Linked DNA regions of Homo sapiens: all the other regions are linked to region 2. The links come from fine-mapping of genetic effects on gene expression. A gene starts in region 2. Each other region holds a variant in brackets. All regions are shown on one strand. Distances are from middle to middle.

The links. PIP is the estimated chance that this variant, and not a neighbour inherited with it, causes the effect.
Region 1: its variant is fine-mapped to the expression of CXorf38 in caudate (GTEx, PIP 0.99).
Region 3: its variant is fine-mapped to the expression of CXorf38 in whole blood (TOPMed, PIP above 0.99).

What each region holds. Positions count from the first base shown.
Region 1 is chrX:40,866,921-40,875,105 of GRCh38, forward strand. No RefSeq gene overlaps it. Among named protein-coding and RNA genes, the nearest start is that of MED14OS, 140 kb to the left of the region's middle. RefSeq lists enhancers at 164-663, 4,650-4,729. The variant G/A (reference allele first, on the strand shown) is at 4,304.
Region 2 is chrX:40,643,193-40,651,348 of GRCh38, forward strand. It overlaps CXorf38 (chromosome X open reading frame 38), which reads right to left and starts at 4,369. Exons shown (of 7, transcript NM_144970.3): 1 at 4,113-4,369; 2 at 3,815-3,949. The coding sequence starts at 4,328. MED14 (mediator complex subunit 14) reads right to left here. Exons shown (of 31, transcript NM_004229.4): 31 at 5,113-8,156. RefSeq lists silencers at 1,045-1,339, 4,000-4,149, 4,270-4,569, 4,405-4,585 and enhancers at 1,633-1,862, 3,550-3,749.
Region 3 is chrX:40,747,253-40,755,437 of GRCh38, forward strand. No RefSeq gene overlaps it. Among named protein-coding and RNA genes, the nearest start is that of MED14OS, 16 kb to the left of the region's middle. RefSeq lists enhancers at 2,568-2,647, 2,718-2,807. The variant G/A (reference allele first, on the strand shown) is at 4,522.

The sequences.
Region 1 (8,185 bases), 220 kb after region 2:
GGGTGATGGGGAAAGCAGCCAACTGTGGTAAATTAACAGCTTCCACACAGTCAAAGCTGTTGGTTAGAACTCAAAGGAGCCCTTTTCCTACTTCAAAGATACTGCATGGCAGGCACCAGCATTGACCGGCCAGATAGTTTTCAAGGAATGCTTGATACAGGCCAGCAAACTAAGTGCCAGAAATCCTGGGACAGAGACTTTTGCCAAGAGATTCCCTGCTCTGGTGAGCTGAGCTGAGCTGAGAGATGGCTCTAAATGTCACTGATTAATCATGAAGGGTGCTTCTCAGCCATTCCAACACTCTGCTTTTGCTCCTTTTCAGGTCTTCACCCTTCGGCCCCTTCTAGAAAAACCCCAAGTGACTGCTGTCTAGAAATATCCTCAGATAATTGGCTTGGCTGATGCCCAGATGTCCCTTGTCTTATATTAAGGTGTTGGGGAAGGAGGCAGGGACAAGTTACTCTTCTAGCTCTTGCATTGTATGATTCTGTTATTCTAAATTTTGAGAATTTTTTTCCCTTTTAAAGAGTGAATTAATTCTATTTTGACAGCATGACTTGGATCCCATCCAGGGAAAAGAGGTAGGAAGTTCCAGGGATGTGAGTCATCTATCCACCGGGGCTGGAGGCAGTTCTTCTGTTCTTATCCCATGACAAGGACAAACTCTCTGTCAAGGTCAGATCATGTTCTGAATCCATACTCACCAGGCAGCCTGCCATTTCCAATGGCAGCTTCTCCTGGGGCTCAGGAAGGAGGGCTTAGGTGAGGCACCTGGACAATTTGGTCCTTAGAAAAGGGTGTTCCTCTGACTGTGAGTTAAGAATCTAATATCCTGTGTGAGGTGGGAAAAAGAAGTGAGTGCATGGCTGGGTCCTGAGTTTGGGTGGTAGAAAAGGTCTGTTTATAAGATGGAATACTATACAGCAGTATTGACATGGATGCCCTAGAGCCACATTAGCAACATGGACTAATTTTTTTAAGCTTTATTTTATTAATTGACACCAAAAACTGTACATATTTATGGGATACAATGTGATATTTGAATACATATATACATTGTATAATGATCAAGTCAGGGCAATTAGCAAATCCATCACCTTAAACATTTATCATTTCTTTGTGGTGAGAACATTCAAAGTCCTCTTTTCTAGGAAATTTGAAATATACAAAATATTGTTAACTATAGTCACCCTACTGTGCCATAGAACACCAGAACTTATTCCTATCTAACTGTAACTTTGTCCCCATTGACCAACCTCTTTCCATACCCCATCTCCCCACCCTCCCCAGCCTCTTGTAACCACTACTACTGTCTACTTCTATGAGATCAACTTTTTTAGATTCTGCCTATGAGTGAGATCATGCAGTATTTATCTTTCTGTGCCTGGCTCATTTAACATAATATCCTCTAGGTTCATCCATGTTGTTGCAAATGACAGAACTTTATTCTTTTTTACAGCTGAATAGTATTCCATTATGTATATATACAATATTTTCTTTATCCATAGTATTCCATTGTATATATTTTATTTTTATTTATTTGAGACAGAGTCTTGTTCTGTCATCCAGGCTGGAGTGCAGTGGTGCGATCTCAGCTCACTGCAACCGTTGCCTCCCAGCTTCAAGCAATTCTCCTGCCTCAGCCTACTGAGTAGCTGGGATTACAGGTGCCCGCCACCATGCCCAGCTAATATATATATATATTTTTTTGTAAAGACAGGGTTTCACCATGTTGGCCAGGCTGGTCTGGAACTCCTGACCTCAAGTGATCCACCCTCCTCAGCCTCCCAAAGTGCTGAGATTACAGGTGTGAGCCACCACGCCTGGCCCCATCATGTATATATACAACATTTTCTTTATCCATTCATCCACTGATGAACACAGGTTGACTCCATATCTTGGGTATTATGAATACTGCTGCAATAAACATGGGAGTACAGATAACTCTTCAACATGCCAATTTCATGTCCTTTGGATATATAACCAGTAGTGGGATTGCTGGATCATATGGTAGTTCTATTTTTAATTTTTTGAGGAACCTCCAATACTGTTTTCCATAATGACTGTACTAATTTACATTCTCACCAACAGTATGTAAGGGTTCCCGTTTCTCCACATCCTTGCCAACACTTATTATCTTCTGTCTTTTTAGTAACAGCCATTCTAACTAGTATGAGATGATATCTCACTGGTTTTGATTTGCATTTCCCTGATGATTAGTGATGCTGAGTATTTTTTCGTATACCTGTTGGCGATTTGTATGTCTTCTTTTGAGAAATGTCTATCCAGGCCTTTTACCCACTTTTTAATCAGATGGGGTTTTTTTTGGCTATTGAATTGAGTTCCTTCCATATTCTGGATATTAACCCCCTTGTCAGATGCATAGTTTGCAAATATTTTCTCCCATTTTGTAAGTTGTCTCTTCATTCTGTTGTTTCCTTTGCTGTACAGAAACTTTTTAATTTGATATAATCTTACTTGTCTATTTTTGCTTTAGTTGCCTGTGCTTTTGAGATTCTATCAAAAAAAATCCCTGCCCAGACCCACACCCTGAACCATTTCCCCTGCTTTCTTCTATCAGTTTCATAGTTTTGGGTCTTACATTTAAGTTTTTAATCAATTTTGAATTGATTTTTGTATATGGTGAGAGATAGGGTTCTAGTTTCATTCTTCTGCATGTGAATATCTAATTTTCCTAGCACTATTTATTGAGAAGACTGTCCTTTTCCCAATGTGTGTTATTAGCAACTTTGTTGAAAATCAGTTGGCTGTAGATGTGTGGATTGATTTCTGGGCTTTCTATTCTGTTTCAGTGGTCTATGTGTCTGTTTTTATGCCAGGACCATGCTGTATGCTGTTTTGGTTACTATAGCTTTGTAGTATATTTCCAAGCAAGATAGACTAATTTTTAAAACATAATGTTAGAAAGGAAGAACAAGTGACAGGACACATAGAAAGTGCTACCATTAGGCTGGGCATGGTGGCTCATACCTGTAATCCCAGCACTTTGGGAGGCTGAGGCAGGAGGATTGCTTGAACCCAGGAGTTTGAGACCAGCCTGGGCAACAAAGTGAGACCCTATCTCTATAAAAAGTTTTTAAAAAGTTAGCTGGGCATGGTGGTGTGCACTTGTGGTCCCAGCTGCATGGGAGGTTGAGACAGGAGGATTGCTTGAGCTCAGGAGGTCAAGGCTGCAGTGAGTCATGTTTGTGCCACTGCACTCCAGCCTAGGTAACAGAATGAGACCCTGTCTCAAAAAAAAAAAAAAAGTGCTACCACTTATAAAATGTTAAAATATGCAAAAATATCAAATCATTTAGGATAAACATATATCCCTAATGATTTATAATAGGATATAATGTCTATAGATTTATAATATACGTATATGTGATCTACATGTAATAAAATAATAAAAATACACATGGAAATGATAATACCAAACTTGTAGCTGTTTTGGGGTAGAGAATGAAAGTGAGACTTGGTACAACAGAGGGCTCAACTATATCTGAAATGGGTTTTTTTTTTTTTTTTTTTTCCTTTTGGAGACGGAGTTTTGCTCTTGTTGCCCAGGCTGGAGTGCAATGGCGCGATCTCGGCTCACCACAACCTCCGCCTCCTGGGTTCAAGCGATTCTCCTGCCTCAGCCTCCCGAGTAGCTGGGATTACAGGCATGCGCCACTACGCCTGGCTAATTTTGTATTTTTAATAGAGATGGGGTTTCTCCATGTTGGTCAGGCTGGTCTCGAACTCCGGACCTCAGGTGATCTGCCTGCCCCAGCCTCCCAAAGTGTTGGGATTACAGGCGTGAGCCACCGCAGCCGGCCCTGAAATGTTTTCTATCTTCAGCTGGATGTTTGTTACATTGTTCTGTATACTTTTTGTATATCTGAAGTATGGTTTTTAAAATAATTTCAACTTTTATTTTAGATTCAGGAGGTACATGTGCAGATTTGTTACATGGGTATATTGTGTGACACTGAGGTTTGGGGTACTAATCATCCTGTCCCCCAGGCACTGAGCATAGTACACAATAGGTAGTTTTTCAGCCCTTGTCCCCCTTTTCCCCTCCCCCTTCTAGTAGTCCCCAGTGTCTATTGTTCCCATCTTTATGTCCTTATGTACCCAATGTTTAGCTATCACTTATAAGCAAGAACATGTGGTATCTGGTTTTCTGTTCCTGTGTTCATTTGCTTAGGATAATGGCCTCTAGCTCCATCCATGTTGCTGCAAAGGACATTATTTCATTATTTTTTATGGCTGTGTAGTATTCCATTGTGTATATGTACTACATTTTCTTTATCCA[G/A]TCCACCATTGATGGGCATCTAGGTTGATTCTATACCTTTGCTATTGTGAATAGTGCTGCGATGAACATACAGGTCCATGTATCTTTTTTTTATAGAATGATTTATTTTCATGATTTTTTTTTAAGTGGAAAGAAAGGTTAAGTTTCAGTAGGCTTGAGTGAATGTTAAAGCATCAACTTGTGTATTCACTGGGACAGTCCCTCAATTATGACTGTACAAGTTGCTGATGTCCCATGAGCAAAATTACCTCTGTGTCCAGGGACTTTCCTCCTGATTGCAGCTGAAGCTATAAATATTCTCACCTCTACCCCTGCATCATTGCTGGGCCCACCCCTGCTCCTTTTCCCTTCGTCTTTCTGTCACTGCTGGGAAGCCCCTGCCTTTGCTCAGACTTCTGGATGCCTTCCAACTCATTTTCCTGTCCTGCACACTCCAATCCCCCATGGTGTAGGAATCCCCACTTCTGACAGTAGAGCACAGTAGGGAGGAGAGAAGGTGAGCTGAGTTTCTGTTCTCACAAGAAAACTTAGAGTGGATTTTCACCAGGAAATAACACTCTACCAAGTAACTGGTTCTTGACCATCATTAATACTAGCGTCTCATTTCCTGTGGGTGGCGTGGGCTCTGGTGGTGTGCTTAGGAACCAGTCATTCATATAGAACTGAAGAAAATCTGTTCTGAATTCTAAGACAGATTTTCCAACAAACTTTTGGATCAATACCAAGTTTTAAGTTGTCAGTTCCCTATAAAGCCCTAGGGGTGCCTAGCTTAGCTAAAGGGAAAGAATTCAAGGTTTCTGTGGGTGAAGTAAGACAGGGAACTTCAGGGGAACTCCAGAAAGAATTTCCTGGGAAATAAAATTGCATCACGGCTCACCTGCCTGAGCTGCTTAGAGTGTTCATGCTTCTACTAAAGAAGCCTTCTTCTCTCTGCAGCCCCACATTTTAAATACGAACAGTATAATAACAAACTCCACCAAGAAGAGCTGATCATTCACCACACAATGTGATTTCTAATTGCTTGAATAATACCGTATGATGGAATAATTTCCTACCCAGTAAAAATGATTTCTTTTTTTTTCAGAGTGATAATATCCTGTTAAAATATAATGCCATTCTAGACAGTGACTACACAATGGAGTGGTTTTTTTTTTTTCCTATATATAACCTTTAAATGCTAAGCATTAGGATCAAGGCAGTAGCAAGTGATAAAACAAGTTCCCAGATGAAGAAAAGAATTCTTTGGGTCTATGTTGGAATCTAATTACCCAACATCCTTGGGTAAAATAGTGAGTTGACAAATTTATGATACATAGATGGTCTTTGCTCTGTTTCTTCAGAGAAACTCAGTTGCACAAGAATGGAAATGGATTTTTCCATAAAGCTGGTGTGCAGTATAACATCTATATTTGGACAGGCACACACACACCATGTTGCTAATTTTAATGCGCCAATTAAATCCTCATTTTGTGCATCACTGAACCCATAAAAGCAGATTTTTTTTCTTTAGAAAATGAAATTGCAAGACATTTGTTGTCTAGTGACCTACTGTGCCAATAGGTATGTAGAGCATGAGGTGCTCTCTAGGAATACAGAGGAAAGTGAAGACGTGCTTTCCGTTCGTGAGGCATTTAGAACGCAGTCAATTACAAGTTCAGAGCAGAAAGCAGCCTCATATCAGAAAGATGAGAAAAGTGAGGCCTAGAGAGAAAGAATGACCTTCCAAAAGTCACACAGCCAAGGAGTGAAGTTGGTCAGATGAAAACCAGCTGTCCAGAAATGGAGCTCAAAGGCTAGCCTCTCAACAGCAGCCCTTCACAATACCCATGTGGAGGCAGGGACAATGCTGCGCTAGATTAAAATGTTTCTCTAGGTTGGGCCATGTTCCTGGCATATAGATTCTTCCATGGGGCTCATGGGAGGCTCCTTCGCTGGGCCCCTTTGATTGCAGCTCTGGTGATGCTCACCATACAGTGTTTCTCTAAAATCCACACCCCTTTTGGCTTCTGGTTCTTGGGCTGATGTGAGAGAGTGGGAGTAGAGGCTCGAATCCACACTTTCTTTAAGAAATCCTCTTTGGAAACACTTAAAACTGTTGTAGCTTTTACAGACACCACCCCTATAACTCTGAAGTCCCACTCCTAGATGTATGTGCAAGAGAAATGTGTACATATGTTTACCAAAAGACATGTGCTAAAATATCCGTAGGTATTCATAATAGCCCCCAGTTGGAAACTACCCAGATGTCTATCAACAGTAGAACGGATAAATTGTGGAATGCTCACACAATGGGATGCTATACAGTAGTGAGAATAAACGATCTACAACTACATACAGTATGGATGGCTCTCATAAATAGAATGTTGAGCAATGAAGTGAGCCACTAAGGGGTACACACTGTATGATTCCATTTATATAAAGAACAAAAAGAGGCAAAAATAATCTGTGCTATTAGAGGTCAGGATAGTAGTTACCCTTGGGGGTAGTAGTGACTGAAAGCGGGGTACAGAGACCTTATGGGATGCTAGTAATTAATCTTCTGGTTTTGTTGGGATATTCAGTTTGTGAAAATTCATCAAGCTATAAACCTGTTGTTTGTGCACATTTTAATATGTATCTTATATTTCCAAAAAGATTAACAAAAGAAGACTCCAACCTTTTTTTCTTTTTTTTTTCAAGAGTGGGTCTCACTCTGTCACCCAGGCTGGGGTGCAATGGTGCAATCTCATCTCACTGCAGCCTCCACCTCCTGGGCTCAAGCAATCCTCCCACATCAGTCTCCCAAGTAGCTGGGACCACAGGCGTGTACCACCATGCCCAGCTAATTTTTTTTTACTTTTTTTTTTTTTTTTGAGGCAGAGTCTCGCTCTTGCCCAGGCTGGTATGTAGTGGTGCAATCTCGGCTCACCAAAACCTCCGCCTCCCAGGTTCAAGCGATTCTCCTGCCTCAGCCTCCCAAGTAGCTGGGATTACAGGTGCCTGCCACCATGCCCGGCTAATTTTTGTATTTTTAGTAGAGATGGGGTTTCACTATGTTGGCCAGGCCGGTCTCAAACTCCTGACCTCGTGATCCACCCGCCTCGGCCTCCCAAAGTTCTGGGATTACAGGCGTGAACCACTGCGCTCAGCCGATTTTTTTTACTTTTGTAGAGATAGGATCTCACTATGTTGCCCAGGCTGGTCTCAAACAATCCTCCCATCTCAGTCTCCCAAAGTTCTGGGATTACAGGTGTAAGCTGCCATGCCTAGCGTCCAGCCTCTTTTTCCCCCATGGCTCCCACATGCAGAGGTGCAGCCCGCTATCACAGGCTGTCTTAATTCAGGCTCTGATCCTAGCTCCCCAACCACAGAGAACACACAGTTACCTCTTCAAGGGTCCCTTTAAAGTACCATTTCACGGACTTAAGGTTAAAAGGGGGCTCCCCATCACCTCAGGGGTCGGAGAGGGATGCCCACAGCATGGCAGTAGCCTTATCTAAAGAACCTTCTTCACAAATCCTTCTTACTTCTACCCTCTCTTGATGCCTTTGTAGTCAAAATTGTTGAGGGCATTTGAGAGTCTTAGAGCATACCTTTTGTAAAGTCAGCCTCTGTAGATCTGAGCACACTCCTTTTGGATGTCTCTTGTATTGGTGCAAAACAGCATTGGGAAGGTCCATTTTCATATCTTATTACGTAGGTAAATAAGAAATCTATCCATAATAATGGCTTGTCACATTCATGTAGTGCTTGGCCTTTATAAAAGAGAATGCAGATCTATTGCCTTAATATTCACAGCAACCCTACAAGGTAGGTGTTACTCTCGTGTTACAAGTGAGAACATTAAGACTGGTAAAGGAGAGGTGACCTGCCCTGCCTGAGCTTACACAGGCACTACATGAA
Region 2 (8,156 bases):
GCTGTGATAACAGGCATGAGCCACCACATCCGGCCTCTTAAAATCTTATTTTCCAATTATTTATTCAAGTGTTTTTAAAAAAAACAGCTTTCTTGAGATATAATTCACCCATCTACACATTATAATTCAGTGGTTTCCAGCATATTTAAAGAGGTGTGCAACCACCACTACAGTCCATTTTAGAACATTTTCATTGCCTCAAAAAGAAACCCCATACCCATTAGCTATCATCCCTCATTCCCCAAAGCCCTGGCAACCACTAATCTACTTCTGCTTCTATAGATCTGCCTATTCTGGATATTTCTTTTCTTTTCTTTCTTTTCTTTTTTTTTTGAGATGGAGTTTCCCTCTTGTTGCCCAGGCTGGAGTGCAATAGCACAATCTCAGCTCACCGCAACCTCCACTTCCCAGGTTCAAGTGATTCTACTGCCTCAGCCTCGCGAGTAGCTGGGATTACAGGCATGCGCCACCATGCCTGGCTAATTTTTTGTATTTTTAGTAGAGACAGGGTTTCTCCTTGCTGGTCAGGTTGGTCTTGAACTCCTGACCTCAGGTGATCTGCCCACCTTGGCCTCCCAAAGTGCTGGGATTACAGGCTTGAGCCACCGTGCCCCGCCTGGACATTTCTTACAAATGGAGTCTAAATGGAATTTATATAAAATGGACATTTCATATAAATATAATATGTGACTAGCTTCTTTCACTCAGCATACTGTTTTCAAGATTTATCCACATTGTAACTTGTATTAGTACTTAATTCCTTTGTTACATTGTTACAGCAAAACAATATCCCATTGTACAGAGATACTGCATTTTAAAAATTCCATTCATCAGCTGATGGGTATTTGGGTTGTTTCTACCTTTTGGCTATAGTGAATGGAGCTGCTATGAACATCTGCGTACATTTTTTTGTATGAATGTATGGTTTCATTTCTCCTGGGAATATACTTAGGAGGGGAATTGCTGGGTCATGTGGTAACTGTTTAATTGTTTCTTTTAAAAAAATTTAAATAAACCATGGCTATATTAAAGCTTTTTCTATGGAGATGGGAATGAGCTGCAAGAGAGAGAGTGGACAGCTGAAGCCTCAAAGGCCTTGAGCAAGAGAAAAGGGATAAGATCCAACACACGAGTGGAGGTATGAGGCAATAAGAGGAGAGACACCCTTCCTCCTCTGTAGCAGAAGGAAATAGATGGTGCACATGGAGATTAGTTGGTGTTGGCAAAAAGAAGAGGAAGTATAGTCAGCCCTCCATATCCACGAGTTCCGCATTCATAGAATCAACCAACTGTGGATGAAAAATTCTCAGAAAAATAATACAACAGTAAAAAGTAATCGAAATTTTTTAAAAATATAGCATAACGACTATTTACATAGCACTTACATTCTATCAAGTATTATAAGTAATCTAGAGATGATTTAAAGTACATAGGAGAATGTATGTAAGTAATATGCAAATACCACATACATCATTTTATATCAGGGACTTGAGCATCTGTGGATTTTGGTATCCTTGGGGGTCTTGGAAGCAATACCCCATGGATAAGGAGAGACAACTATGTATGTCCAAGGGCCTCCATCAATTCCGTGAAGCATGAGCAAGGGCGGAGGAACGGGAGCAGGGATTTGCCAGGGAAAAGTAGTAGTCTCCAGAAACTGAAGCCTAGAGAGAGATGTGGCCAGACCGCTGGGGCTCATGATCAAGAATGAAAGTGAAACCAGTCAGTTCCCTTGTGAGATTCTTTCCCACTAATCAGAAGCAGAAAATGTCATCAGGACTGGAGTTGGGCCAGGCAAGTTCAGAGAAAGGAGAAAAAAAAAGCTGAGATAACAGCAAGGGACGGATTATAATGATGGGCCATGGAATCTGGGCTAGCTGAGGTGACAAAGGCAGGCAGGAGGACAGAGGGTGCTGGGTATTCAGGAAGCAGTGGAAGCCTCAAAGAGGCGGAAGTAGTATGGGGCACAGGGTTGGGGGCAGGGGTGCATGAATAAGTGTGCCAAAGGCCAGCAGGATGTTAGACACTGAGACTTTCTGTGCCAAGGTCCAGGGTGTGGGCATGCAAGCCGGAGGCTGAGGGGGAGTGAAGCAGAGGATGCTGGAATCAGGAGCCCAGAAACTGAGAGGATGGGGTTGGACTAGAAGGTCTGTAGGTGACAGCAACCAAGAGGAGCAAAGAGTGGTATAAGGAGGTAGTACAGGCTACAAGAGGATTCCAATGGTGTGAAAGCAGCAACGCAGACCAAACAGATGAGGGACAGGCATTGTAAAGGGCAGAGTTTTCTTTCTTTCTGTTTTTTTTCTCTTTTCTAGGTAGAAGTAGAAGTCAGCAACTCTATGGCTGCAGTGGAAAAAAATGGGGAAGATGGTGTAGGTGTGGTGGGTTTACCGGCTCGTGATACCCAAAAGTCTGGGGACCCCTGATACAGTTCAATTTTTTAAGACAGGGTCTTGCTCTGTCACCCAGGCTGGAATGCAGTGGTGTGATCACGGCTCACTGCAGCCTCGACTTCCCAGGCTCCAGTGATCCTCTCACCTCAGCCTCCTGAGTAGCTGGGACTACAGGCATGCACCACCACACCCAGCTAATTTTTGTATTTTTTTGTAGAGACGGGGTTTTGCCATGTTATCCAGGGTGGTCTTGAACTCCTGAGCTCAAGCCATCCTCCCACCTTGGCCTCCCAAAGTGCTGGGATTACAGGCATGAGCCACCGCGCCCGGCCCCAATTCCTTTCATTTTTTTTTTTTTTTTTTTTTTTTTTTTTTTTTTTTTTTTTTTTTGAGACGGAGTCTCGTTCTGTCGCCCAGGCGGGAGTGCAGTGGCGCGATCTCCGCTCACTGCAAGCTCCGCCTCCCGGGTTCACGCCATTCTCCTGCCTCAGCCTCCCGAGTAGCTGGGACTACAGGCGCCCGCCACTGCGCCCGGCTAATTTTTTTGTATTTTTAGTAGAGACGGGGTTTCACCGTGGTCTCGATCTCCTGACCTCATGATCCGCCCGCCTCGGCCTCCCAAAGTGCTGGGATTACAGGCGTGAGCCACTGCGCCCGGCCGTCCTTTCATTTTTGAGATTGGGGAGCACAAGCTGGCCCAGTGTCACACCACGGCAGCTGATCCAGGACTCAGATCATCTGCTTCCCAGGCACTGCTCCTTTCCAGTGCCCACCCTGTGCCTGCTGATAACTACTGGCATGTAGACTGACTGCTAAAGTCAATTTGTGTTAGGAAGCCACTTCTGGCTGTCCCTCTCCGTCCCTTACTGGGCAAAAAAATTTCCTACTCGATCTACTTAGTAAGTGACATTGCCAAGATCTGAAGACAGATCCGGCTGCCTACCCCATTCCCAGCTACCCAAAGTGCCTTTAACTGGGCACTTAAGGTGCTATTTTAGCCCTAACTTCCCTTGGCTTACTCTGTCATCCTTACGGCATCCTATAGCCAAAAAAGAGCTGATGAGCTGTTCAGCGAGCCTTACCCTCAAACAGGCCACACAAGAGTCTCCCTCCCTCCCTGCCTGTGCTCATGATGCTCGCTCTGCATCTTGCCCCAGTATCTCTTGTAGAACTCTTTCCTGTAACTTTCCAAGCAGGGGTAACAAACTCAAATGCCCTCAGGAAGCAGACGGGTAGAAGAAAGCTTCTACTTCACTAAGCTGGGTTGGGTCCCGCATACCACCCCTGAACCGCCTAGACCCTTGATCAATCTCTCTCTCTGCATCTGTTTATGAGGCCCCGGCGACCACAAGACCAGATAGCCACCCCGAGTGCTGGGTGACCCGCCGCTTCCTCCTTCCGTCCCCGCCTCAGGCGCTTACCTTGGCCACCTCCCAGGCGTCCACGGGCCAGCGGCCCGGCCGGCAGTTTCCCCAGTGCACATCTCCATTTCTGTTGACATGATGTCTCAAAATCTCCCTTTTCCATTCAGCGCACACCTGACACTGAGGCTGAAACTACAGGGGGCGGCGGTGAGGAGGGGCCCAGGAGGGAGGGACGTCGCGGTGGGCCCCGCATCGCGGAGGGAACAGGACACTTGCGCTCTGGGTCTGGGACAGGAACGGGGATGAGGAGGGGTGGGGTGGGGGCGGTGGTCAAGGCCCCGAGCCAGGTGCTCACCTGGCGGGCGCGAGGGCTGCACCGTGAGCCGCCGCGGCAGACGGCGCGGGGCCCCAGGCCGGGGGCTGCGGCGAGTAGGCCGCGGTGGAAGGAGAGCACCTCGCGGCCGACGAAACCCTGCAGGCAGCTGCGCAGCAGTAACAGGCAGTGGCCCGCCTTCACCCAGTTCTTGTACTCGGCGCAGTTGAGGCGCGCCGCTAGCTCCGACAGCACCATGTCTCCCACTTGGAACCAGGAGGTTGCGGGGCGTGGCGGACGGCAGTGCGCAGGCGCGGAGCCTGGGAAGTACCCGAGGCAGCGGCGCCTGCGCCGGCGGCAGCGACGCCTGCGCCTGCGCGGCGCGGTGCCACCGATCCCGGGGCGGGGCATCTTGACTTCCGGGGCACGTCGGCTCCACCCCACTTGGGTGACGTCTGACGTCTGACGTCTAACAACTTTGGTGCTTGGGGAAGCAGTTAACTATTTGAAACCCTTAGGCCCTCTTCGTCCCCCAAACAGAGACCCTGTCAGCATCCGATTCGACTCCCTCTCCTAATGTAGGGCACTTCTGTTTTAACTTTTTTTTATTGTCCAGATGTACAAGGTGCTCAGGGCACATTGCTTGAATCGTGTATGTTCTTTGCATTATACAATTCTAGAGTTACTGGTTCCTAAGCCCACAGACCAGCTGTAGCAAATTGAGGTATTAGTGAAACGTGACCGCTGGCTGCCTGCGGTGTGCCAAGCTAACCCAAAACTCAAAATCCCCCGCCACTGGACCACCCAGAAGGGGGCGTTTGCCTGTTTAGGGCAACACATCACTTGGATTCTAGAAGGCTGCACACCTGAGCCAGATAAGGGCATCCTGAAGCACCTAGCAAAGGTTAGACGATAATTATCTAGTATTCTTGATTATATGATAATTAGTGCTCCTTGCACATGGAAGTCTGATTTAAGTTCCAAAGAAGTGCCACAAAGGTCAGAAGGCACTGGGATTGTCAACTCCAAGTGACAAGTCAGGTCAGTTTTAGTTGTTTTTAATGAGCTTTCTGAGCTTGGAAAACATGTCAAAATTGTGTGTAGTTAAAAGCCTCTGAGGAAAGAGTCTAAACATTAAACCTTCCCGACTGTGGTTCACAGCAAAAATGTCCAGTGTTTAGGAGCACTAGCTCAGACTCAAACTGCCCCTTCTTAGCAGTTTGATCTTAAGCAACCTTAATTTGATCTCAGGCAAATTACATTTCTCTGGGCCTCCATTTACTCATTTTTAAGAAGAGGATATCAATAACCTACCACATTGGGTTGTTGTGAGGATTAAATACACATTGAAATATTAAGAAAATGCCTAGCACACAGTAAGCTCTCAGTAAATACTTGCTATTATTTTATATTGACCTAAATATGCCCTTTCATCAATCAGTTATATTCTTGGGCAAGGTATTTTAACAAATCACTGGCCACTTGGAAGTGGAGGCAACTTGCAGAAAATTGTGAGCATACCATGGAGTTCCTGGAGTTGTGCAGCACAGTGCTGGCTGGCCTCTGCTAACTTTGTCTTAATAACCTCAATGCTAAATCCATCCTAAGTAAATTTAAATCACATCCTTAGACACACTGTCCATTCTCAAACCGAATGAAAAAAAAATTCCACAAGAAACAATGAAATACACATTAACATTTTCCCTCTATGTCCCTTGAATGTAAGTTCTCTTAAAATTTTCTGTATACTGATTTTATATCAAGAACACTTGGATGATAAATAAACATTAAGGTAAAATGTAATAGGCACTTCTTTTGGGGGGAAAAACTATGAAAGGAACAACTTTTTATATTGAAATTGCATCAGAATCCAGGGTAGCAAAGTTATAACTTCTTGAAGTTATCAAATTAACCACAGTCCAAAGAATGGCTGTTAGTATCCTTTGGCTGAACAGATTACTGTGTTAATTAGAACACAGTTATTAGTGGTTCTTAAATTCAAAGTCATATAAATTTTAGTTTATGCTTGCACTTAACTCACTCAGTTAATTTTCAAACATAAGGTTCGACTCCTGTTATTAGCGACTTGACACGTTCTGCTGAAGCTCTCACTTTTCTTCTAATTCTGAAAGTACTTTTATACATTCTGAAATGGCATTTCAGCAGATGGAAAAATGAAGGTGGCAAATCAGGACCAATTTCTTATTTCAAGGTTAAATTAATACTAAACCAGACTATTAATGAAAACATCTTCATCAAAATTAACTAGAGAGTTGGTAGTTCTCTGAAACTTTGTATAAATTTTATTTATTACTGTAAATACTAAAATCACATTGAAAACACCTTAAAGTTAAGTCCCAACCCGATTATTAGAGAAAATCACTTGGGCATCCAGTCCCCTTGATCGAACCTGGGTAACAAAAGAGGCAAAAGACATGATTTGTGATGAAACTTACTATTCAAATGCTAAATGTTTTCAAGCTTTAATAAGGTATATATCAATTCCAAGTACCAAGCATAATATAAAAATTCAAATTCATGGGTTTACTCTTAATAAGCATCAAAAGCAAATTTTGCGCACTGAATCCTATCTTACTCTTGATTGGCACAATGCATTCAGAGATGAGTTATAATTAGGAAAAAAGAGTGTCCACTGAATGCATCATGTGTAAAAATGCAATTAACATTTCAAAACCACATTAAAAGGGAAAATACCTAAAAAGTTAACTCTTAATAAAATTATTTGAAACAATATTATCCTGCAGATAAAAATACATTTCTTGTATATACATGTAGATTTCTACATGAAAGAAAAGATTCAGCTCCAAATAGAAAAGGGCTGACCCTTGATAAAGACATCTTAGATTGCCAAACTGATGTGATTACCACTGTAAGAACTAAAAACAGAAGGATAAAAAGATTAAGTTAAAGGAAGGATAAAAGTTTAGTCAACTGCTCCTGAACAGTGGCAGAGTTGGGTGAGAAGTGGGAGATGAAGGCAGAAATAAGACAAAGAAGAAAGGCAAAGAAGGCTTCAACTCTGATTGAAAATGAGTGGAGAATCAAACAAAGTTGAGAACAGATATGATATAGGTACAGTGAGATACTTGAAACTAGAATTTGATAGTTGATAGTTATAGAAGCTCAATTAAATCATCTTGAAGTGGAATTAGACAAAGCATCTACATTTTAATGGAGAACCAGTATTACAGTGACCAGGTAACTCGGCATGGTATTATCACTTAAAAATTTTTCCTAAATACCATGAAGTCGGTAGAAGACCTTTGCATCAGACCATGTTCTTTGAAGCTTAAAAAAGTCCCTGACTGACTAGGAAAGACAGCACAGTGCTCCAAAAAGAAACCCTGCAGAGATGTATTAATACCAAAAACTCCATTTGACCCTGGACAGGCCCAGGATTCGGGATTCTTCACAATGAGGGGAATGGACCAGGTTTCTTCCAAGCAAAACATTCTATCGTTTTGTTGACAATGAATTAAATTGAAATTGTTTAGAACAATCCCAATTTTGGTGGGGAAGGAAAGGAGGATAAGTTAAGCAAGATAAAGAAAGCTCACAGAAACTTCATGCAGAGGTACAGCATTAAAGTTCTTTGTTTCCTAATTAATGTTGTATGCAGAAGTATTCTGTAAACTAAATTTTCCTGACAGAAAAGTTCCCACATCCTCAACAGATGAGAATGATTGCATTATTTGGGATCCTTGATCAATACGAACCACATACTGTCCCTTCTCAAAGACTAAGTTCCTTATTTTTCACCCAAATCCTATATATTGAAAGACAACCAAGGTGCTAAATGTTAACCACTAGTCAAGTTAGGAATGTCTGAAGAAAATATATTAACCTTGACATAAAGAAGATGTTTTTGGTCAAATTTCAGACATGTATTATTATAAATTAATAACTGGCTCCATCCACCAGGTTAAAGATGAAGGGAGGGCCTAAGATGTCTCTAGAGTTTATATACACACAAGTGAGTGTCACTGTTTTGTTTTGTTTTTGACCTAGTTTTATTAAATATTGCTTCCTTGGGGTGTGTTTATAACAACTCCCAGAACATTTCAT
Region 3 (8,185 bases), 100 kb after region 2:
CTGGAATGCAGTGGCACTATCACGGCTCACTGCAGTCTCAACCTCCGGGGCTCAAACAATCCTCCTGCCTCAGCCTTTCAAGTAGCTGGGACTACAGGCATGCACCAGCACATGCCACTAATTTTTTTGTATTTTTTGCAGAGACGGGGGTCTCACTATGTTGCCCAGGCTGGTCTCTCAAATTCCTGGGCTCAAGCAATCCTCTGGCCCCAGCCTCCCAAAGTGCCGGGATTACAGGTGTGAGCCACCAAGCCCGGCCAATATAGATTAACTTTAGATTTCAAACCAAGTATGCCAAATTTAAGAGAAACTACTACAAGAGCACAAATGGGTTATATGACTTCCAAGCCAGAAGAGGAAAAAGAAGAGAAAAAATGAAGCATGGCGAATCCAATAATTGGCATGAAATGAGGAGGAAAAAATAAAGCAAAAGAATGGGAAATAGCATAAATTAAGAAAAAAAGAAATACTAATATATCAGTAATCACTATAACTATGCATTATTTTATTTGCACTAGGGATATCCCCCTTGTAAAGAGACCAAATAAATTGCAGGTCAGTTCCTTTAACTCTTTCCTTCTTGCAAATGTGTGTATGGGCATGCATGTGCATGTGTACACACGTGTACATTTACACACATATTTGTTTCCACATCTGTCTCTCTCTCTCTCTCTCTCTCTCTCTCTCTCTCTCTCTCTCTCTATATATATATATATATATATATATTAAAGCCATGAGTTCATACTGATACCTCATATTTCAATCCAACACCAGAGGTTCATTCTAGTCTTCCCCCTTTCCATATTTGTAACTTCCTTTTCTGACAGTGAACAATCTGGCTCAATATACTTATTTGCTCAATCCTAGAATACATAGAAAGTCGTTTCAGAATAGATAATCTATACCATTGTGAAAAACTAGCCTTCTGGGTTTGGAGGACAGTGGCAATACTGCCTCATTCTGAATCTCCCTACTCACCCCTCTCTCCACAAATAAACCTCATGAAATAAAGCAACATATGACTGATATAGTTTAGCTGTGTCCCCATCCAAATCTCATCTTGAATTGTAGCTCCCACAATTCCCACGTGTCATGGGAGGGACCTGGTGGGAGGTAATTGAATCATGGGGGTGGGTCTTTCTTGTGCTGTTCTCATGATAGTGAATAAGTCTCACGAGATCTGATGGTTTTGTAAGGGGGAGTTTCCCTGCACAAGTTCTCTCTCATCTGCTGCCATGTAAGATGTGCCTTTCACCTTCCACCATGATTGTGAGGCCTCCCCAGCCACATGGAACTGTTGAGTCCATTAAACCTCTTTTTCTTTATAAATTACCCAGTCTCAGGTATGTCTTTATCAGCATCACGAAAATGGACTAATACAGTGACTTATTCCTTCATCAGTATTTGGTAAAAGAGAATATTCTGATGTTTAAATTACTTGTAAGCAAAGAAATAAACCAAATTCTAATAGAGCTCCTGCCATCTGCCTGCTGCTGCACGCCTGTGGGTGCAGAGTGCAGAGGAGAAGAGGCGTAAAGAAATGCCATGAAAAAATATAGTGGGGCATAGAGGACTTGGATAAGGCACGGACAAAATAACCCTTAGAAAGAGAAAGCCAGATAAGATAAATGCCAAAATATAGAATATAGGTCAGGATATGGTAAGTTCATGTTAGTTTGTTATGCAACGATAGAAAACGAATATGGATTTTAGTACCTGAAAGTGTGGTGCTGCTATAAGAAATACTTAAAAATGTGGAAGTGTCTTTGGAACCAAGTTTGAAGAGGATTTTGTGGAGCATGATAACAGCCTAAGTTGCCTTGAACAGAATGTTAGTAGAAATATGGACTATGGGAAGGCGGCTGGTGAGGCCTCAGAAGGAAGTGAGGCTCATGTTATAAGAATCTGGAGGAAGTGAGATCCTTGTTATGTATTGGCAGCAAGCTTAGCAAAACTGAAACTTGTGTCCTGCAGTTATTTGGAAGGTAGAATTTGAAAGCAATGAACTCACATATTTAGCTGAAAAGATTTCCAAGTAAAGTTGTTTTTGCTTGTTGTTTTTTTTTTGGTTTTTTTTTGTTTTTTAGAGGCAGGGTCTCCCTCTGTTGCCCAGGCAGGAGTGCAGTGGTGCAATTATGGCTCACTGCAGCCTCAAACTCCTGGGCTCAAATGATCCTCCTGCCTCAGCCTCCTGAGTAACTGGGACTACAGGCACGTGCCACAACACCTGGCTAATTTATTTTTATTTTTATAGAGATGGGGTCTCACTGGATTGGTCAAGTAAAGTGTTGAAGGTGCCATCTAGTTTCTTCTTGCCGATTATAGTAAAACCCAAGAAGAGAGTGACAAATTGAGGAAAGGACTGTTAAACACAAAGGAATTGGGTAATTCTCAGCATATCAAGATTGACGAAGACACTAAAATTAAGAGACAAAAGGTTAGAGTATTTGATCACAAGAGGTTTATGCTGTGCCTCACAGATCTCATTCAAATCAGTGGCTTCTAGGAAGCTTAAGGGTGTCCCTGAGCCATCTCAGCAGCAGCCAAAGCTAGAGAAGGAATGATCTCTACCAGATTTGTGGACATGGCTTCTGTTCAATGTAGTGAATTCCTATGACATCCACTCAAAGCAGACAAGGTTCTTGAGAAATTTGTATCAGCAGAAATACTGCCAGCTTGGACTGAAAGTGACAGAGTTTGAAGTGAAAGGAAGCTGTCAAACTCCCAGAATTCCTCTGGCAGAAAGGAGGTTGATAAAACTACTCAGCTGTAAACACATTCTACCTTTCATGAAAAAAGGACGGCTCAGAGAGAGGAACTGAAAGCCCAGGGGGCACAGGCGAGAGCCAGAGGGCAGAACTGAAAGGCACGTGGAATTATTTCCAAGTCTTGAAACCCAAGGGAGTTTCCCAGCTTTTAAAACTGCTTTGGACTGGTGATCCTTTTTACCTTCCATTTTCCTCCCTTTTGAACTAGAATGTCTGTAACTCTTACCCTATGCCTGTTCCATCATCATGTGTTGGCAATAGATAACTTGTTTCTACAGTTTCATAGGTCCACAGATGGAGAGAAATTGTGCCAGGCGTCTCACCCACACCTAATCTAAGTGATTTGATGATGAGATATTGGATTTTTGAATTCATGAGATTTAGATGAGAGTTTGGACTTTGAGTTTAAGCTGTAATGGTATTGACACCCTTGGCAAATTTGGGAGAAGGTGAATGTATTTTGCATTTAGGAGAGACATGAATCATTGGGGGCCAGAGGGCAGACTGTGGTAAACAGAATTGTTCTTTTTATTTTTTTATTTTTCTTTTGAGACAGGGTCTTGCTGGGTCGCCTAGACTGGAGTGCAGTGGCGTGATCATAGCTCACTGCAACCTCGAACTCCTGGGTTCAAGTGATCCTCCCTCCTCAGCCTTCTGAGTACTGGGACTACAGGCATGCATCAACACACCTGGCTAATTAAAAAAAAAAAAAAACTGTAGAAACAGGAGTCTCCCTGTGTTGACCAGGCTGGTCTCGAACTCCTGGCCTCAAGTGATCCTCTTGCCTCAGCCTCTCGTAGTGTTGGGATTACAGGCATGAGCCACCTTGCCTGACCTTGATGTTTGATATATGTTTACATTGTGGAACGATTAAATCAAGCAAATTAACAAATTCACCACCTCAACTACTTAAACATCTCCGCTTTCCATGTCTACCCCTCTCCTCCAGCCTCTGGGAATTGCCATTGTACTCTCTACTTGTATGAATTTGACTTTTTAAAATTTCACATGTAGGTGAGATGGTGTGATATTTGTCTTTCTGTGCCTGGCTTATTTCACTTAACATAATGTCCTCCATGTTCATCCATGTTGTCACATGTGACAGAATTTTATTCTTTTTAAAGGCTGAATAGTATTCCATTGTGTATATATACCACATTTTAAAAAATCCATTCATCCATTGATGGACACTTACCTTGCTTTCAAATCTTACCCTCTGTGAATAATGCTGCAATGAACATGGGAGTACAGATATCCACTTTGACATACTGATTTTAATTCCTTTGGATTCCTTTTTTTTGAGACAGAGTCTCTCTCTGTCACCCAGGCTGGAGTGAAGTGGCGCGATCCTGGCTCACTGCAAGCTCCACCTCCTGGGTTCACGCCATTCTCCTGCCTCAGCCTCCCGAGTAGCTGGGACTACAGGCGCTCGCCACCACGCCTGGCTAATTTTTTTGTATTTTTAGTAGAGACAGGGTTTCACTGTGTTAGCCAGGATTGGATTCCTTTTAATCCCAGTAGTGGGATTGCTGGATCATATGGTAGTTCTATTTATTGTGGGGCTTTTTGAGGAAATTCCATAATATTTTTCATAATGGCTATATTAATTTATATTTCCACCAACAGTGTACAAGCATTCCCTTTTCTCTACACCCTTGTTAACACTTATTATCTTTTGTTTTTCTGATAATAATTCTATTATCACCTATTCTATTATAGATTTCATGATATTCTATCATATCACCTCACATTC[G/A]GGTGTAAGATGATATTTCCATTGTGCTTTTAATTTACATTTCCCTGATGATTAGGGATGATAAGTGTTTTTCATATATCTGTTGAACATTGGTGTATCTGTTTTTGAGAAATGTCAAGTCATTGGTCCGTGTTTTAACTAGTTTGTTTTTTTTTCTTGCTATTGAGTTGTTTGAGTTCCTTATTTTGGATATTAGTTTCTTGTCAGATGTATGGTTTGCAAATATTTTCTCCCAGTCCTTGAGTTGTCTCTTCATCCTGTTAATGGTTTCCTTTGCTGTGTGGAAGCTTTTTAATTTGATCCAATCCCATTTGTTTATTTTTGCTTTTGTTGCCTTTGCTTTTGGGGCTATTGTGGAGCATTTCCCCCATGTTGTGGAGCATTTTCCCCCATGTGTTCTTCCAGTAGTTTTACAGTTTCAAGCTTTATGTTTAAGTCTTTAATCCGCTTTGAGTTGATTTTTGTACATGGTATAAGAGTCCAAGCTCATTTTGCATGTGGATGTCCAGTTTTCCCAACACTCCTTATTGAAGAGATTGTCCTTTCTCATTGTGTGTTCTTGGCATCTTTGTCAAAAATCAATTGATTGTAAGTGCTTGGGGTTATTTTTGGGCTCTATTCTGTTCTATTGGTCAATGCATCTTTTTTAATGCCAGTACCATGCTGTTTTGATTACTACAGCTTTGTAATAGATTTTGAAGCCAGGTAGTATGATGCCTTCAGCTTTTGCTTTTGATCTTTGGGCTCCAGTTTTTTTGCTCAAGATTGCTTTGGCTATGCAGGGTCTTTTGTGGTTCCATACAAATTTTAGGATTGCTTTTTCTAGTTCTGTGAAAAATGACATTGTAATTTTGATAGAGATTTAACTGAACCCATAGATTGCTTTGGGTAGTATGGACATTTTTTAACAATATTAATTCTTCCATACATGAACATGGGATACTTTTTCATTTATTTGTATCTTTTCTATTTCTTTCATCAATGTTTTATAGTCTTTAGTGCACAGACCTTTCACCTCCTTGGTTAAATTTACTCCTAAATATTCAATTTTTTGATGCTATTGTGGATAGCATCAAATTTTCTTAATTTCTTTTTCATATAGTTTATTTTTAGTGTAAGGAAAGGCTACTGATTTTTGCATGTTGATTTGGTATACTGCAACTTTACTGAATTCATTTATTAGTTCTAACAGTTTTGGCATGAGTTTTTTGGGTTTTCTTTATGTAAGATTATGTTGTCTGCAAACAGGGGCAATTTAACTTCTTCCTTTCCAATTTGGCTGTATTTTATTTCTTTCTCTTGCCTCATTGCTCAAGCTACGATTTCCAGTACTATGTTGAATGGAAGTGGTGAGAGTGGGCATCCTTGTCTTGTTCCTGATCTTAGAGGAAAAGCTTTCAACTTTTCACTGTTGAGTATGTTAGTTGTGGGCTTTTCATATATGGCCTTTATTGTGTTTAGGTACGTTCCTTCTATGCCTAATTTGTTGAGAGTTTTTATCATGAAAGGATGTTGAATTTTCTCAAATGTTTTTCCTTTCTGCATCTATTGAGGTGATTGTATAGTTTTTGTCCTTCATTCTGTTATTATGGTTTATCACATTCATTGATTTGCAAATGTTGAACCATCCTTGAATCCCAGGGATAAATCTCATTTGATCACGGTGAATTATCCTTTTAATATGCTGTTTAATTTGGTTTGCTCATATTTTGTTTAGGATTTTTGCATCTATGTTCATCAGGGATATTGGCCTGGAATTTTCTTTTTTGGTAGTGCTATTGCCTGACTTTGGCATCAGTAATGCTGGCCTCATAGAATCAGTCTGGAAGTATTTCCTCTTCTTCATTTTTTTGGGAAAAAGTGTGAGGAGGATTTGTATTAGTTATTTAAATATTTGGTAGAATTCGACTGTGAAGCCATCTGGTCCTGGGCTTTTCTTTGATGGGAGATGTCTTATTATTGAGTCAATCTCATTGCTTATTATTGGTTTGTTCATATTTTCTGTTTCTTCTTGATTCAGTCTTGTTAGGTGTATGTTTCTAGGAATTTATCCATTTCTTCTAGGTTAACCAAATTTTTGGCATATAACTGCACATAACAGTCTCTTATGGTCCTTTGTATTTCTGTGACATCAGTAATATCTCCTCTCTTATTTCTGATTTTCTTTATTTTAGTCTTCTCTCTTTTTTTCTTAGTTGGTCTGGCTAAAGGTTTGTCAATTTTGTTTACATTTTCAAAGAACCAACTTTTAGTTTGGTTGATGTTTTCTATCATCTTTTTAGCCACTATTTCATTTATTTCTGCTCTGATCTTTATTATTTCTTTCCTTCTACTGATTTTGGGCTTAGTTCGTTCTTCTTTTTCTAGTTCCTTGAGGCATAAGGTTAGGCTGTTTATTTGAGATTTCTTTTTTTTTTTGATGTAGGCATTTGTTGTTACAACTTCCTTTGGTGATGTCTGTGTAGCCTTGCATTTGAAGGAGCAAACCCTTCTTTCAGTCTTTACAGATACATTTTGGCAAGTTAAAGTGTTCTCCTGTTAGGTATTGTATTAGTCCATTCTCACGTTGCTATAAAGAAATATCTGAGACTGGGTAATTTATAAAGAAAAGAGGTATAGTTGGCTCACGGTTCTGCAGGCTGTACAGGAAGCATAGTGGCTTCTGCTTCTGGGGAGGCCTCAGGAAGCTTCCAATCATGGCAGAAGGCAAAGGGGGTATGAGGTGTCTCACATGGTGGGAGCAAGGAGCAATAGAGAGAGGGAGGAGGTGCTGTACACTTTTAACAACCAGATCTCATGAGAACTCTATCAAGACCATGAGGACGGTACAAAGGGGGATGTGCTAAACCATTCATGAGAAATGCACACCCATAATCCAACCACCTCCCACCAGGCCCCACCTCCAACACTGGGGATTACAATTTGACATGAGATTTGGTGGGGGTACAAATCCAAACCATACCAGGTATCTGGGTTGATGAGATTGCCTCCAGGATCCCAGTTGAGTAGGGTTGAATCTAGATCATGTTGCTGGTGCCGGGTCTGCAGTGGAGACCAAAGTTAGTGGGCATGGGTCCTATATGGTTCCCTAGTGGAGTGGACTATTTCCAGGATCTTGGTCTGTGGGGCTGGTGCTAGGATGAGGATCCACTTCAGGATTCACAGATGGCAGGCCTGTTACCAGGTGCACTGATGGGTGTGGCTTCCTCTGTGATTCTGAGAGAGCTGCTGTTGGATCACTGGATGAGTCCCTAGGCTGGCCATATTGCTCTGGTCCATGGCTGAGAGGGGCTAGAACAGAGACACAGGATTGTTTCAGGGTCCGCAGCTGAGATCGAGATCTTCAGTCCTGTCTCCAGGGTCAGGGGTGGGTGTGTCTCCCGGTGGGCTTCTGGGTGAGCAGACCTGCCATCAGACTGCAATTGAGAAGGGCTGGAGTCTATTTATAGGGCTGTTTCAAGATCCACAATGAGATCGAGGTCAAGGAATCAGCCTTCAGGGACACTGCGAGACATGCCTCCCTCCAGGACCAAGATCCAGGGACTCAGAAGGGCACGTCTCCTGGCGGGATCCCAGCTGGGCAGAACTGTTCCCAGACCACAGCTGGGAGGGGCTGAAACTGAGCTTCAGTGCTATTTCAGAAACTGCTGTGTGACTGATATTG